Regions from separate parts of the Homo sapiens genome. Here region 1 is linked to region 2. The links come from fine-mapping of genetic effects on gene expression. Tissue or cell type: lung. Region 2 holds a variant in brackets; the other region holds the start of a gene. All regions are shown on one strand. Distances are from middle to middle.

Region 1 (4,375 bases), 20 kb before region 2:
AGCCAGGGGAGCAAATGAGATAAAGAAAAGAGCGGCCTGTAATCCGAGGCTTCTCTTTCCTCAAGTGGATCACTTGAGGTCAGTAGTTGGAGACCTGCCTGGCCAATATGGCAAAACCCCGTCTCTACTAAAAATACAAAAATTATTCGGGCTTGGTGGTGCATGCCTGTAATGCCAGCTACTTGGGAGGCTGAGGCAGAAGAATAGCTTGAACCCGGTAGGCGGAAGTTGCAGTGAGCCTAGATCGCGCCACTGCACTCCAGCCTAGGCGACAGAGCAAGACTCTGTCTCAGAAAGAAAGAAAGAAAAAAAAATCACATGTAGAGAGAGGACAAGAGCGCTCAGGCCAAAGCCCTGAAGAGCACCAGCATAAAGCGTTGGACAAAGAGGAGCCTGGAAAGTAAAAAAAGAATTACTAAGGAAGTAGAAGAAAAACAAGGAAAGTGCAGTGTCATGGAAGTGGTTTAAGGAGGAGGGAGTGGTCAACAGTGCCAAATGCTATCAAGAAACCAAGTAGGATAACCTCTGAAAAGATTCTATGGGGGCTGGGCGCGGTGGCTGACGCCTGTAATCCCAGCACTTTGGGAGACAGAGGCCGGCGAATTACAAGGTTAGAAGTTCGAGACAAGCCTGGCCAGTATGGTGAAACCCCGTCTCTACTAAAAATACAAAAAAATAGCTGGGCGTAGCTACTCGGGAGGCTGAGGCAGAAGAATCGCTTGAACCCAGGAGGCGGAGATTGTAGTGAGCCGAGATCGTGCCGCTGCATTCCAGCCTGGGCGACAGAGTGAGACTCTTGTCTCAAAAAAAAAAAAAAAGAAAAGATTCTATGGGATTTAGTGAGATGTTTCATGGCAGACCCTGATGAGAGAGAGCAGTTTCAAGCAAGTAGTGGAGGCAGATTGGAGTGGGTTGAAAGATAAGTGGGAGGTGGGAAAATGAAGACAGTTGGGTGTAGGCAACTCTTTTGAGAAGTTTGTAGAAGAGAAGAGAAGGAGGTGGTTGGAGAGGCAGAATTCTTGGTAATTGTTTATTTGTTTTTAGATGGAAGAGGTCTATGTTTAGATGCTGTTGGGAAGGAGCAAGGACAAATTCCTAGGCTTCGTAGCAAAAAGTCAAGAGCTTCCTCTACGGTGGCTCTGTTTACTCTCTGCAGCAGGTCAGGTTATTTGCTGAGGGTTACAGGGCAGATGGAGCACTTGGGGTTTGAGGGGAAAGGAGAAGGTTTGAAATGGTCACTGTGGAGAACAGAGGGAGAGCTGACTAGTAGGGTTGTGGGTCAAAACTGAGGGCCTGGTAGAAGCTGGGAACCATGGGTTTATAGTGGCACAAATCTGTGAAGTTGAATAGTTTTCCCCAGCAATGTTTAGCTGCCTGGGCGCAGGCATGGAAAAGGCGGACAGTTGGACCGATTCAAGACTGGGATGTTGCCAGGCGGATGCGACAAATCAGGGAACTGAGGGTATTTAAGAAAGTGACTAAGTAAGGGACCAAGATATCTGGTCTGAGCAAAGTGAAGGAGAATCAGAGACAGGTCCTCTATGAGCCAAGCCCTAGGAACACTCAGGAACATGAAGAAAGGGTTTTGGAAAAGAGAGTGAACGGCAAGCAGAGGGGGGAAGACCTGAGATGGGATGGAAGGGCAGATATGGGGGGAGGGGGTTGAGCCCGGAGACTTGCCTGTGGGGAAAGCAGGCTGAGGGGGAATTTTTTAAGGGGCAGGAGGGCCTTGAGAGCGGTAGCAGCGAGAAGTGAGGCGGCCCCGAGCGAGGGGGCGTGGTCAGGCGCAAATCCCGGGCGAGGGGGCGGGGCCCCGGTAACTGGGTCCCAGTGCCGCTGTGGCTGCGGCTGCCTCTGCGAGGCTCCCGCCTCCCCACCCCCCTTCCCAGGGCTCCTTCCCGCCCGCCGCCGCCGAGACCCAGGCTGAAGCTGGGGAGGACGGTGGAGCCCGGCCCAGGCCGTTCTCCTGCCCCCGCGGCTGGAGCATCGTCTGGGACTACTGGCTGAAGGCGAGCCCCGCAGCCCAAGCGCAGCGCACACGCGCGCCCCCGGCCACCGCCGTTCTCTCTTCCCTCCCCTCCTCTCCCCTCCCCTCTCCTCCGCCCCCGGCCTCGGCTGCGGCGGGAGGAAGAACGCTTCCCAACCAGCCAGGAGAGCCCAGATCTATTCCCATTCGGGGAGAAAGAAGAGACCCCGCACTTGGATCCGACCGACTTCTCGCCCCGGGGCCACGGAAGTGGCTCGCCGTCCACCGGAGAGTCCCCGCCGAGCGTAGCCCTCCAACCCTCGCCCAACCGCAGCCGCATAGACAGCGCTCCCCAGCGGGCCCCCGGCCCCGCCGAGCCCACTCCCCGCGCGGGGCCGGGGCCGGGGCCGGCGATGCCTGGCACGGCAGCGGCGGTGGCCGCGGCTGCTGCTGCTGCTACTGCCACCGCTGCCACGGCTGCTGGCCCGGGCCCGGGCTGGGGGCTTGAGTCTCTGCAGTGGGGCTGAGCCCGCAGTCCCGCCCCCCGATCCTGAGGCCGCTGCTCCGCCGGGCGCCGGGCCTCCTCCGCCCGCGCCTCCGCCCCAGGAGCTGGAGCCAAGCGGGGAGCTCGGGCCCCGCGCCCAGGCCCGGACCATGCATGGCCACCGAGCCCCGGGGGGCGCCGGGCCTTCGGAGCCCGAACACCCGGCCACGAACCCGCCGGGCGCCGCTCCGCCGGCCTGTGCCGACTCGGACCCTGGAGCCTCGGAACCCGGACTGCTGGCGCGCAGGGGCTCAGGTTCGGCTCTTGGCGGCCCACTGGATCCCCAGTTTGTCGGACCCTCGGACACCAGCCTGGGCGCTGCTCCAGGCCACCGGGTCTTGCCCTGCGGTCCCAGTCCACAGCACCACCGGGCCCTGCGCTTCTCTTACCACCTGGAGGGCTCGCAGCCTCGGCCTGGTGAGTGAGCGACTGAGAGAGCATGGGAGCCCGGGCCACGGGCCTGGTACTGGGAGCGGGTTCTTGTTCTCGAGCCCTCTAAGCCCCACCTCGGAACAGGCTCGCTTACCTCGGCCCTTTGGGTTCCCTCAAACCCCTCCTCCTCCCCACGTCCCTTGGCCTTATGTCCAGTCCTTTCAACCTCTGTCCCCATCTCCTCTCTCTGTCCCTTGTGCCCCTCAACCTCTCCAACCCCCTTCTCCTCTGTCTGCTGAGGCTAATGGGAGAGGGAGCACTCGCGAGAAAAAGAGGGAGGATTGCAAGGCAGCAATCCTTGGATATTTGGTTGGGGAAACCAGGGTTTCGTTTGGAGAACAGAAGAAAAAAAGGAGCCTTACATTTGCCAAGCGCCTACATTGTACCAGGCACTGGACTGGGTGCTTTACATGGATTTTCATTTCAGCTTCAGGAACCCTCATGAAGTAGATACCATTAGTCCCATTTTGTAGGGAAGGAAACTGAAGCTCAGAGAAGTTAAGCAACTTGCCCAAGGTCACACAGCTAGTATGGAGCCACGATTCAAACCAGATCTGTTTGTGTCCAAAGTCTGTGGTCTTTCTGCTTCCCCAAACTGAGGCTGGAGACCATGAAAGTAATGCCAAGCCTTCTGCTTATGTGATTTTCTCCTGTACTATTCAGCAGCCCTGGAGTATGAGCGGAAAAAAAAAAAAAAAAAAAAAAAAAGAAAGACGGTGGATTGATCCAAGGTTGAGATTTTGCCAGGTGTGTGTGGCGGGAGAACAAGGGAAGGAAGGAGTAGAAGGTGCTGAGAGAGAAAGGTGGAAGAGGTGGGCCTTGGGAGTCAGGCTAGAGGAGAAGGCTGGAGGGGCTGATAGGTAGGGAGACAGCAGAAAAGCCAACAGAGGCAGAAGCCAGTTGTAGCAGGAGCTGGAGAGCTGCAGGTCCACGAGGTTGGTTGTGATGTGAAATCAGGATGGTTTCTTGGATTTGAAAAGGTGGAGCAGCTTTAAGTCAGGCTGAGGCCACAGACCACTGCCTTTGTGCTACACAGACCTGAGTGTCTGAGGAGCACAGCAGGACCTTCCCCATCTGGGGACATTCTCATACGGGCCTGAGCCCAGGAGCCACAGAAGAAGAGCAGCGCACATCTGCCCTGCCTTCCACTGGGACTGAAGGAGTTGTTAAGCCCTTGGGGGCTCCCGGGTTCACACCTCAGGCTCCACAGATCTCTGGGACCGTGGCCTTGCACCAGGTAGCAGTAGTGAAGTATAAAGCATGGGTAGGATGTGCCTTTTGGTGCCTTCATGACCTTGGGCTAGTCATGGAACCTCTGGGAGATTTCAGGGGGCTCCCTCAGTGTGGGCTGAAGATAACCAGCTGGCAACAGGCCCTTAACACCTTGGCCTGCATGTTACTTCTGCTGGCTTTCCAAACTCCCCTTGACACTG
Region 2 (4,375 bases):
TAATGGCACTGTCGTGAGCATTCAGATGCCCATGGCAGAAAAAATTGGGTAGAGTCCCTAGCCTGCTTGAGGCTTAAGTGGACAAGAGTCTGGGGGAACTCTGGCTACCAGGTGCTGTCTTGAAGGCCCGGCTCTGCCACATTCATTTGGAAGCTTTCCCTGACTAGCGTTGCCAGAATTAGCCTTCAGAAAGTATTTAATACAATTAGATTTGAATTTCAGATATACAATAAGTCATTTTGTTTTTAGACGGGGTATCACTCTGTCGCCCAGGCTGGGGTGCAGTGGCATGATTTCGGCCCACTGCAGCCTCCGCCTCCCGGGTTCAAGCCATTCTCCTGCCTCAGCCTCCCGAGTAGCTGAGATTACAGGCGCCTGCCACCATGCCCAGCTAATTTTTGTATTTTTAGTAGAGACGGTGTTTCGCCATGTTGGTCAGGCTGGTCTCGAACTCCTGACCTCATGATCTACCCACCTCGGCCTCCTAAAGTGCTGGGATTACAGGCATGAGCCACTGCGCCTGGCCCAACAAGTCATTTTTTAAGTATAGCTTAAGAAATTGTTAGTATAAGTATTCATGAGACATATTATACTAAAACATTCCTTGTTTATCTAAAATTCAAATTTAACTGAGTGGCCGGGCATGGTGGCTTACGCCTGTAATCACAGCACCTTGGGAGGCTGAGGCAGGTGGATCACCTGAGGTCGGGAGATCGAGACCAGCCTGGCTAACATGGTGAAACCCCATCTCTACAAAAATACAAAAATTAGCTGGGCTTGGTGGCAGGCACCTGTAATCTCAGCTATTCGGGAAGCTGAGGCAGGAGAATTGCTTGAACCCAGGAGTCGGAGGTTGCAGTGAGCTGAGATCGCACCATTGTACTCCAGCCTAGGTAACAAGAGCGAAAGTCCATCTCAAAAAAAAAAAAATTAACTGAGTGTCCTGTATTTTATCTGGCCACCCTATCCATTCTCCTCCACTGAGCTTCCCCAGTCCCCACAGGCTCGCCCTCGTTGCCTTTCCTGAGTTAGAGTCTTTGTCTTTGAGATTGGGAGCTCCCTGAGGGTAAGGGTCAAGATTGCCCTTCTGGCCTGCTGAATGCCTGGGGGGGCAGGGGTTTGAGAGTGGGGCAGGAAGGGTGCATACCCCACCCCCATCCCCACAGCAGAGCTGGCACAGTGCACTGGCACTCCTGGGGTGCCTAGAGTATGCTTTCCTAGGTGACAAGAGATGTCCGAGTGGCAGTGGTGGTTGTGTGTGTGCAGTTGTGCCGAGCACGGTGCACACAGACATGAGTAGCTCTGTGGTTCTCTCTCTGGGTCTTTGAGGGATGTGCACAGTTGGTGTGTGGCTGGGTACATTTCCACAAAGTGTTATCAGATTTGGTGGTGGCTGGGTGTGGTGGTACACACCTGTAGTCCCAGCTACTTGGGAGGCTGAGACAGGAGGATTGCTTGAGCCCAGGAATTCGACACCAGCCTGGGCAAAATAGTAAGGCCTCACCTCAAAAATAAAAAATAAGAAAGATTTGGTGGTGTGACCAAATGTGTGTGACGGGGGCTTTTTGGTGATCTCTGCTCTACTGGGCATTGGGGAATTATAAATCCGTTGATGGAAGGGGCAGTGCTGGTGGAGGATCTTGTCAGGTGTGGAGGTGTGGGTGTGGGTGTGATAATGTTGTGGATTATCAACCACAAGAAAAATGGGCTGGAATTGGGCACACTGGCTCATGCCTGTAATCTCAGCACTTTTGGAGGCAGAGGCAGGAGGATCTCTTGAAGCCAGGAGTTTGACACCAGCCTGGGCAACAAAGAAGGACCCCATCTCTACAAAAAAAATTAAAAATAGCCAGCCATGGTAGTGAGTACCTGTAGTCCCAGCTACTTGGGAGGCTGAGATGGGAGGATCACTTGAGCCCAGGAATTTGAGGTTACAGTGACCTGATCACACTACTGTACTTAACCCTAAGCAACAGAGCAATACCCTGTCTTAAAAAAAAAAAAAAGGGCTGGAGAAAATGAATCCAGGACCTTGCTGGGTAGGGACGGGATGGGGCAGTGGGAATGGCTGTGGTTTCTAGGAAGGAGGAGGGGGGCCTACCCTGGGAGCTCCCCAAGGGCAGGGATGGGATTTTCTCATCTCCAAGCACAGGGTCTACTAGGTTCAAAAATATTCTGGAGACCAAACTCAGCCAAGGAAAGCCATAGAGTTCAGCATGGTCATGAGGGGCCACTGAGAGCTAGCTGAGAAGTTTCTTTTTTTGGTGTTTTTGTTTGTTTGTTTGTTTGTTTGTTTTTGAGACAGAGTTTCGCTCTTGTTGCCCAGGCTGGAGTGCAATGGTGCGATCTCAGCTTACCACAACCTCCGTCTCCTGGGTTCAAGCGATTCTCCTGCCTCAGCCTCCCGGTAGCTGGTATTACAGGCATGCGCCACCACGCCCAGCTAATTTTGTATTTTTAGTAGAGATC[G/A]GGTTTCTCCATGTTGGTCAGGCTGGTCTCGAACTCCCAACCTCAGGTGATCCACCCACCTCAGCCTCCCAAAGTATTGGAATAAAGGCGTGAGCCACCGCGCCCGGCCTAGCTGAGAAGTTTCTATTTTCCCATGGACAGTAGGGAGTTACAGAAGGTTCTTGTGCAGGTAAGTGGCATGATCTGAGCTGGACTGTACGTAAGTTCATTCAGCCACCTGGAGGGAGCAAGACTTGGAGCCAAGGAGGCCACTGAGGGAAAATAGGAGACAGGGAAATGTAGGCAGAGAGACAAGGGAGAGGGAGTTCTGAAACGAGAGGGAGGGATCTTGAACCTTCTCCCGCTCAGTGAAACCTAGCCTGGTTCTTGGCCAGGCCTAGGCTCCTAAACTGGACCCCTGTTCAACTCCCTGTGGACAGGGTTGAGGGGTGTCCCTCTGACTAGCTACACTGCAGTTTGTGACTTTCGGAAGCCGTTGGGTCCACCCGCCCCTCCTGGTTCCCCTCTTTTCCAGCTTGCCCTTGGAGAGCAGGGTTAATAAGAAAGGAATCCAGTCCATGACCAGTCTGCCCAAAAGTGTGCCATTCATTGATTTGCTCTGTGACCTTGGGCAAGTCACTGCCTCTCTCTCTGACTCCATCTCCTCACTAGAAACTGGGCTGACAATCTCTTTTCCTCTCACCTGGGACTCCAGGGAATCTTTGCATTTCATTCAGCCTCCTCTTCCTGCAGGGCTGCCTGCAAGGAGGCAGAGAGAATGGAGAGGCAGGTCTGTCTGTGGGCTGTCAGGTGAGATGGGTGAGGAGGGAGCAATGGGTGGGCTAGGGCAGGGCCATGGAAAGTGGGATGTATGGTCACTCCATCCCGAGGACCAGCACTGGAGGAGAAGGAGAGCAGCATTATCCAGGGACCCTGCTGCTTTGCTACAGATAGGGTAGGGAGGGCTTGCCCAGAGAGGCCTGCCTGCTTTGAGGTGTGGAGATAGGTGGGCTCCTCCAGGCCCAAGGAGGCAGACAAGGGGCACCAGGGACCCTGGCACCTATGTGTGTATATCTGAGGAGGGGTCTCTGCATGGCAGGGTGCCTGGCTTTACTCACTGCCTCTCTGGCCCTGTCAGCTCCTCTCTGTCTCTCTCCCTTGCTCTGGCCATGTGTCTCTCCAACCACATCTCCGCCTGTGCCACCCTCCAGGTGATTCATCTTCCTCACCCCCACGCCCAGGGGGAGGGCAGGGCAAGACCAGGCCAGGATGTGCTGAGCAGGGCAGGGTAAGCGGCACAGCTGAGTGGAGAGGAGCGCCTCCTCCATCCTGGCCAGGCCCTGCCAGCTTAGGTGGGGAAGGAAGTGAGGAACGACACCCAAAGCAAGGTACAGAGTTGGGGAGGGGCGCTCGGCCTGGGGCCTGGGGCACCCTGTTCCCTCAGTGCTGGGAAAGGACCCTGATCTGAGTCCCCTGGGGTGGACCTGGCTGGGATGTAGCCAGGGGTGAGGTCAGGGGCCTAGGGAAGCTGCTGGAACCCTGTGGGTTGGGCTATTTCTTCCCTCCGGGACTGGGAGACCTAAAATCCCCTGTGACTCTTTCTGCCTGTGTGACCCTGGAAGGGAGGCTGCAGAGGTCTTTGTGTGTGTATGTTTTCACAGCAGAGTTTGTATGTGACTATTTAGGAGGAGGCAAGTGTCCCACAGTGTGTGTATTCCTGGGCCTATGGCTAAGACCCAGGGACACCGTGGATGTGTTTGTTAGATGAGTATGACATAGTAAATGACAGTTGTCCCTTGGTCTCCATGGGGAATTGGTTCCAGGACAGCCTGAAGATACCAAAGTCGCCAACACTCAAGTCCCTTATATAAAATGGCATGTTGTTTGCATATAAACTATGTGTATCTTCCTGTATATATATATATAT

What was found. PIP is the estimated chance that this variant, and not a neighbour inherited with it, causes the effect.
Region 1: FGD1 starts here. The variant in region 2 is the best candidate, but not a certain one, in a credible set for the expression of FGD1 in lung (TOPMed, PIP 0.82).

What each region holds. Positions count from the first base shown.
Region 1 is chrX:54,493,678-54,498,052 of GRCh38, reverse strand. It overlaps FGD1 (FYVE, RhoGEF and PH domain containing 1), which reads left to right and starts at 1,819. Exons shown (of 18, transcript NM_004463.3): 1 at 1,819-2,927. The coding sequence starts at 2,621. RefSeq lists a silencer at 1,707-1,756.
Region 2 is chrX:54,473,989-54,478,363 of GRCh38, reverse strand. All of the region lies in intron 1 of FGD1 (FYVE, RhoGEF and PH domain containing 1), which reads left to right. Among named protein-coding and RNA genes, the nearest start is that of FGD1, 20 kb to the left of the region's middle. The variant G/A (reference allele first, on the strand shown) is at 2,470.